2 linked regions of the Homo sapiens genome follow. The protein of the gene in region 1 interacts with the protein of each later gene in a biochemical or structural test. Each region holds a gene or a part of one and is shown in the gene's direction. Other genes may lie near its edges. The genes, in order: ICAM1 and EZR.

Evidence for each region.
Region 2: the proteins of ICAM1 (region 1) and EZR form a complex in vitro, tested with the Homo sapiens proteins (one study listed by BioGRID).

The regions. Positions count from the first base shown.
Region 1 is NC_000019.10:10,280,937-10,284,249, forward strand, and holds part of ICAM1 (intercellular adhesion molecule 1 precursor), read left to right. Parts: intron 1-2,384; exon of another isoform or gene 2,385-2,514; intron 2,515-2,544; coding exon 2,545-2,850; intron 2,851-3,096; coding exon 3,097-3,313. UniProt on the Homo sapiens protein: ICAM proteins are ligands for the leukocyte adhesion protein LFA-1 (integrin alpha-L/beta-2).
Region 2 is NC_000006.12:158,767,170-158,770,984, reverse strand, and holds part of EZR (ezrin), read left to right. Parts: intron 1-90; coding exon 91-221; intron 222-1,040; coding exon 1,041-1,201; intron 1,202-1,566; coding exon 1,567-1,659; intron 1,660-3,472; coding exon 3,473-3,724; intron 3,725-3,815. UniProt on the Homo sapiens protein: Probably involved in connections of major cytoskeletal structures to the plasma membrane. In epithelial cells, required for the formation of microvilli and membrane ruffles on the apical pole. Along with PLEKHG6, required for normal macropinocytosis.

The DNA.
Region 1 (3,313 bases):
GATCTGGGCTCACTGCAAGCTCCGCCTCCCGGGTTCACTCCATCCTCCTGCCTTAGCCTCCTGAGTAGCTGGGACTACAGGCGCCCACCACCACGCCTGGCTAATTTTTTGTATTTTTAGTAGAGACGGGGTTTCACCGTGTTAGCCAGGATGGTCTTGATCTCCTGACCTCGTGATCCGCCCGCCTTGGCCTCCCAAAGTGCTGGGATTACAGGCGTGAGCCACCATGTCTGGCCTGGCCAGGCTGGTCTTGAACTCCTGACTTCCGGTGATCCATCTGTTCTGGCCTCCCAAAGTGCTGGGATTACAGGCATAAGCCACCACGCCATGCCGAAGCCCAGCTTGTTTTTAATTTTTTTTTTTTTTTTTGGAGAAATGAGGTCTTGCAATGTTGCCCAAGCTAGCCTTGAACTCCTGGCCTCAAATGACCCCGCCTTGGCATCCCAAAGTACTGGGATTACAGATGTGAGCCACCATGCCCCAGCCTTGCTTTCTTGAGATACGATTTAGAATACCATAAGATTCATCCCTTTTAAGCACATAATTCAATGACTTCTGTACAAACAACCATGACTACAATCTAATTTTAAAATATTTCAATCACTCTAAAAAAGAAACCTCCTGCTTATGTACAGCGACTCTGTCTACCTCTTAAGTGAATTCTCCTACCTTTAATAGCCCTATTTTACAGTTCAGGAAACTGAGGTTCAGAGAGACAAAGTCACTTACCCACAGCAAAGAAGCAAGGCTGGGTATCAAATGCAGGACCCCCCCGGTCCTGATGCTTTTTTTTTTTTTTTTTTTTTCCTCTGAGAGAGACTCTCACTCTGTCACTCAGTCTAGAGTACAGTGGCGCGATCTCAGTTCACTGCAATCTCTGCCTCCTGGGCTGAAGTAATCCTTTCCTCACAAGTAAACCTCAGCCTCTCAAGTAGCTGGGACTACAGGCACACAACACCACGCCTGGCTAATTTTTGTATTTTTAGGTAGAGACGGGGTTTCACTATATTGGCCAGGCTGGTCTTGAACTCCTGACCTCAGGTGATCCGCCTGCCTCGGCCCCCCAAAGTGTTGGGATTACAGGCGTGAGCCACCACACGCAGCCTTTTTGTTATTAGACTCTGTCATTACTGACTTTTTTTTTTTTTTAATAGAAACAGGGTCTTTCTTTCCCAGGCTAAAGTACAGTGGCATGATCACAGTTCACTATAGCCTTAAACTCCTGGGCTCAAGTGATCCTCCTGCCTCAGCCTCCCAAGTAGCAGGGACTACAGGTGTGCACCACCACACCCAGTTAACCATTCATTCATTCATTCATTCATTTATTTTGAGATGGAGTCTCGCTCTGTCACCTAGGCTGGAGTGCAGTGGCACGATCTCAGCTCACTGCAACCTCCACCTCCCAGGTTCAAGAGATTCTCCTGCCTCAGCCTCCCGAGTAGCTGAGACTACAGGCGTGCACCACCATGCCAGACTAATTTTTGTATTTTTAATAGAGACGGGGTTTCACTCTGTTGGTCAGGCTTATCTCGAACTCCTGACTTCGTGGATCCACCCTCCTTGGCCTCCCAAAGTGCTGGGATTAAAGGCGTGAGCCACCGCGCCCTGCCAACCTTTTTTTAATTTTTCTTAGAGATGGGGGTCTCCCTATGTTGCCCAGGCTTGTCTTGAACTCCTGGCCTCAAGTGACCCTCTTGCCTTGGCCTCACAAAGTGCTAGGATTACAGCCTGAGCCATCACACCTGGCCAACAGGTTTTTTTTTTTGTTTTGTTTTGTTTTTTAAAGAATGTCTAGGCCAGGCTCATTTACTTTCACCTGTAATCCCAGCACTTTGGGAGGCCGGGGTGGGCAGATCACTTGAGGTCAGGAATTCGAGACCAGCCTGGGCAACATGCTGAAACCCCGTTTCTACTAAAAATACAAAAATTAGCTGGGTGTGGTGACACGTGCCTGTAATCCCAGCTACTCAGGAGGTTGAGGCAGGAGAATTGCTTGAACCCAGGAGGCAGAGGTTGCAGTGAGCCAAGATCATGCCATCACCCTCCAGCCTGGGCGACAGAAGGAGACTCAGTCTAAAAACTTAATTAATTAATTAATTAAAAATAAAAATACAAAAATTAACCTGGTGTGGTGGTGTGTGCCTGTAATCTAAGCTACTCAGGAGGCTGAGGCAGGAGAATCCCCTGAATCCCAGAGGCAGAGGTTGCAGTGAGCCAAGATCGAGCCACTGTTTGCCCAGTCTAGTGCACTGGGCTGCTGAATTTATTTGACCAGACACCTAGCAATAGACTTTGAAGTTCTTTTCCACTTTTCACTCTAAGATGCTGCTGTCATGAATAAGGAATATTTTGATCCCCTTCACAAACACTCGGGGCCCTCTTACCAGTTTTCACTGAAGATCTTGACATTCCTATCTGCTTAGGTGTCTGGGCGTGTTTGGGGGAGATACTGAAGAGGTAGGGCTCCCAGGCAGGTGCAGTTCGTCTGTTAGGCAGGCAGCAAGGTCCACTTCACCAGACACCCCCACCTCTGTTTTCCTGCAGGGACTCCAGAACGGGTGGAACTGGCACCCCTCCCCTCTTGGCAGCCAGTGGGCAAGAACCTTACCCTACGCTGCCAGGTGGAGGGTGGGGCACCCCGGGCCAACCTCACCGTGGTGCTGCTCCGTGGGGAGAAGGAGCTGAAACGGGAGCCAGCTGTGGGGGAGCCCGCTGAGGTCACGACCACGGTGCTGGTGAGGAGAGATCACCATGGAGCCAATTTCTCGTGCCGCACTGAACTGGACCTGCGGCCCCAAGGGCTGGAGCTGTTTGAGAACACCTCGGCCCCCTACCAGCTCCAGACCTTTGGTGAGGATTGAAGAAGCCAGCAGGGAGAAGGTGGGGGTGGGGTATCCTGCAATGCGGTGCCTGTGGCCACAGGATCTTTTGAGATGGGTGTGGCCCCGGCTAAGGGGTGCATGTGTTCTAGGCGTATGTGACCTAGGCTGCTGAGTGGCCCTGGAAGAGGATCTCGCAGGAGGGGGAATGAAATGCCCCAGAGAAGGGCTTCGGGACGTCCATCCCTGTCTGCTCACACCTTTCTTCTCTCCCTAGTCCTGCCAGCGACTCCCCCACAACTTGTCAGCCCCCGGGTCCTAGAGGTGGACACGCAGGGGACCGTGGTCTGTTCCCTGGACGGGCTGTTCCCAGTCTCGGAGGCCCAGGTCCACCTGGCACTGGGGGACCAGAGGTTGAACCCCACAGTCACCTATGGCAACGACTCCTTCTCGGCCAAGGCCTCAGTCAGTGTGACCGCAGAGGACGAGGGCAC
Region 2 (3,815 bases), on another chromosome or scaffold:
CCTGGAGCTTCAAGTACCCGTGAAGTGTGTTGACCCCTCACTTTCCTGCCAGAGTCTAAATCTCCCTGTGCCTCTTTTTCCCTGCACCAGGCAACAGCTGGAAACAGAGAAGAAAAGGAGAGAAACCGTGGAGAGAGAGAAAGAGCAGATGATGCGCGAGAAGGAGGAGTTGATGCTGCGGCTGCAGGACTATGAGGAGAAGACAAAGAAGGCAGAGAGAGGTCAGGCGCCCTGGGGCTGGCACTCTACACTGGGTCATGCATTTCCACAGAGTAGCAGGGGCCACACCCACCCACCCACTCACCAGGAAGGAAACCAAGAACGTGTCCCACAGCGCAGACTCACAGCCGAAATGATAAAATGGTTATTTGGTTTGGAAAACAGTTCTGTACTTATTTAACTTTGATGCTAGTTGTTCTAAGACTTTGTATTTTAAAATTTCCCTAGTCTTTTGCGGTAAGTGCTCAATCACCCAGTTTCCCCGATGAGGACAGTAAGGTTTGGTGCGGTACAGTGATTTGCCCACAGTCCCCCAGCCCATGACTGACAGGGCCATGCTGCACTGCCCTCGACCTCTAGACTAAAACCCAAAGGCGTGTTCAGAGCCAGACTTCCCAGCACAGCTCCAGTCAACAACCCCAGCAGCTGGGCCGATTACACAAGGCGCCACAGATGCTGTATTCACTGGCAGCCCTTACAGCACACATGGGAAGGGTGTTCTGTGTTCTGAGTGGAGTGTGGACCACCAGCACAGCGGGCGGCTGACCTGGGGAGAGTAGCGCCAAGAGGGTTGAGTCAGGCATGCCAGAGAGAGGGCGCCTGGCTGGCGTTGGACGGGTTTCTAGCCATCTTGAGGAAGTTGTCATGGATACAGCAGCAATGAGCTCTGTGAAGTGCTTTCCTCCAGGGTCACTGGAAGACATCCCCTCAACCTGTGACTTGGTCTAGGGCTCTGTGGCTTTGGGGGTGGGAATGGAAAGCGAGGGCTCCTAGGTCCCTGGGCTGAGGGTTTGAATGGCTCTGGCTTTGTGTCTTTGCAGAGCTCTCGGAGCAGATTCAGAGGGCCCTGCAGCTGGAGGAGGAGAGGAAGCGGGCACAGGAGGAGGCCGAGCGCCTAGAGGCTGACCGTATGGCTGCACTGCGGGCTAAGGAGGAGCTGGAGAGACAGGCGGTGGATCAGATAAAGAGCCAGGAGCAGCTGGTAGGAATGGCCTGAGTTTCAAGATGCTGAATTATAGAGAGGCTGCTTCTGAGGATGGAAAATGTGACACCTGCCTTGTAATAATTGTCATGACTGGAAGCTGTAAACTGATCTGCTGGGGGGCTGAAGGCAGCTGGTGGGGAAGGGGCTGGGCTGTTGCCAGGGTCACCCATTGAAGGTGGGTGTGGGCATCCAGGAAGAGATGCCGGGGGTGCACAATGGACCCTGCTGGCCATGGAGTGGGGGTGGCGGGGACTCAGGTGTCACGTTGGAGACTGCTTGCCAACACACATGAACACTCATTCACAACTGGACTCCGTTGAAAGGATATCAGAACTGACGTGAGCTTGGCATTCCCTTCCCAGGCTGCGGAGCTTGCAGAATACACTGCCAAGATTGCCCTCCTGGAAGAGGCGCGGAGGCGCAAGGAGGATGAAGTTGAAGAGTGGCAGCACAGGGTGAGTCTGCACGGGGGACACCTCCGCACGGCCACAGCACCTGTTGCCCAATTGCCTGCGGTGGGGCCCTTCTGCAGGTGGGTGGGTTGGGGGAGAGGTCTGGCTCAAGCTGCCACATCCCACTGGAAGCTTCTGGGATGTCTCATGATCCTCTGCCAATACCAGCTGTACTACTGAAGTAGACATCCCCAAAGAGATGGGTTTGACTTTGTACACGAGTCAGTGCAGCTGCTGGATTCATAGAGGGAGGACCTCTGATTGACTTTCACCCACTTTGCTCCCTCCACCCCGAACTGTTCAGTGCTGATCTGACAGCCCCCGGTCAGGAACTGGTTTTAAATCTAATTATATATGTGCCCCTTGCAATGGGGTCGCAGTGCCTGAAACACGACCTCCTGCAGCTAGTATATACAGCGGGCACCATGGAAAGATCCAGCTCCTTGGACGTCTCCAGGCTGGAGTGAGAGCTGGGCTCTGCTGCTCATCAGCTATTTGGGGGCTAGTAGCATCACTTCTTCAAGCCTCATTTTCCTCATTGTAGAATGGGGGCAATACCCAACTCATAAGGTTGCTCTGCAGATGCGAGGTCCCATGCCCAGGACCTAGCACAGAGGTTTAGTCAGCTGTAGCTCTCATTGTGGGACGCACACAGAGCTTGTCGCTCCGTCTGGGATCCCCTGTGCCCTCCAGGAAGGCACAGCCCCTGAGAAGCTCTGGGGATGGTTCCCACTGGAGACTGCACACCAGGCTTTAAGCAGCTCCTCTCCTTCACAGACCCGCTGGCCCGTCCTTCCCCCACTGTGGCTTCTCCATCTGTGGAGGTGCCTTCTGGGGACGTGTCTCCCGGCTCTCCAGGGCTGCTGCTGCCTAGTACCTCCTTGCCTCTGTTCCAGCCCCCATTCCCGCTGCCGATCTGTATTAGGCTGTTCTCACAACGGCTATAAAGAACAAGCTGAGACTGGGTAGTTAAAGAAAAGAGGTTTAATTGACTCACAGTCCCACATGGCTGGGGGAGGCCTCAGGAAATTTACAATCGTGGCAGAAGGCGAAGGGGAAGCAGGCACCTCTTACATGAGGGCAGAAGAGAGAAAAGCAAAGGGGGGTAATGCCAAACACTGAAACCATCAGCTCTTGCTCAGAACCCACCCACTAGCACGAGAACAGCATAGGGGAAACCACCCCGTAATCCAGTCACCTCCCACCAGGTAATGCCCCCCACCCCCAGCATGGGGGGATTACAGGTGGAGATGAGATTTGGGTGGGGACACAGCCATATCACCATCCCAAGTTGCAAGCGGAAGACTTTGGTTCTTAGGTTTTTGGAGAAAGTACCTGTTAAGTGAGGAGAGCTGGCTACAAAGCAGATCCACACTAAGCTCAACTCTAGGGCTGGCTGGGATGGAGGCGGGCGGGACTGGGTGTGTGTGAAGCTGTTGGAAGGACTGCAAGTGGCGAGCAGGAGAGCACTTGATAATGACTGTGGCATGAAGGGAGGCTAGGAACAGAGCCCGTTACTCATGCTAACAGGATTTTTTTTCTAAAAATTATATAATGTCTAGAGTTACAGGTAAAAAAAGAAATGGTAGTTTTAAAACTGCCCAGGTTCCGGCATCACAGTTCCTCTTCCTGTCTTGGACGCAGAGGGTTGTAAACCCCCCATGCACCCTGAGGGTGCTCCTCTTCGAAGCCACAGCCCAGCACAGTTCAGTGCTGCCTTAGCCTGCCAGGACAGAGGGAGGTGACAGTCTGTTCTCATAGCCAGGAGGATAGGACTTCTGGGTGAGAAGTCCTCTTATTAATTTGCTTTCCAAAGGCCAAAGAAGCCCAGGATGACCTGGTGAAGACCAAGGAGGAGCTGCACCTGGTGATGACAGCACCCCCGCCCCCACCACCCCCCGTGTACGAGCCGGTGAGCTACCATGTCCAGGAGAGCTTGCAGGATGAGGGCGCAGAGCCCACGGGCTACAGCGCGGAGCTGTCTAGTGAGGGCATCCGGGATGACCGCAATGAGGAGAAGCGCATCACTGAGGCAGAGAAGAACGAGCGTGTGCAGCGGCAGCTGCTGGTGAGGCCCAAGGGGCTCTGTCTCCAGGGAGCCTGCCTCGCTTTTGGAGCAGACAGGCTTGGGGAGGGCAGTGATGTGAGCCAGCCCCACC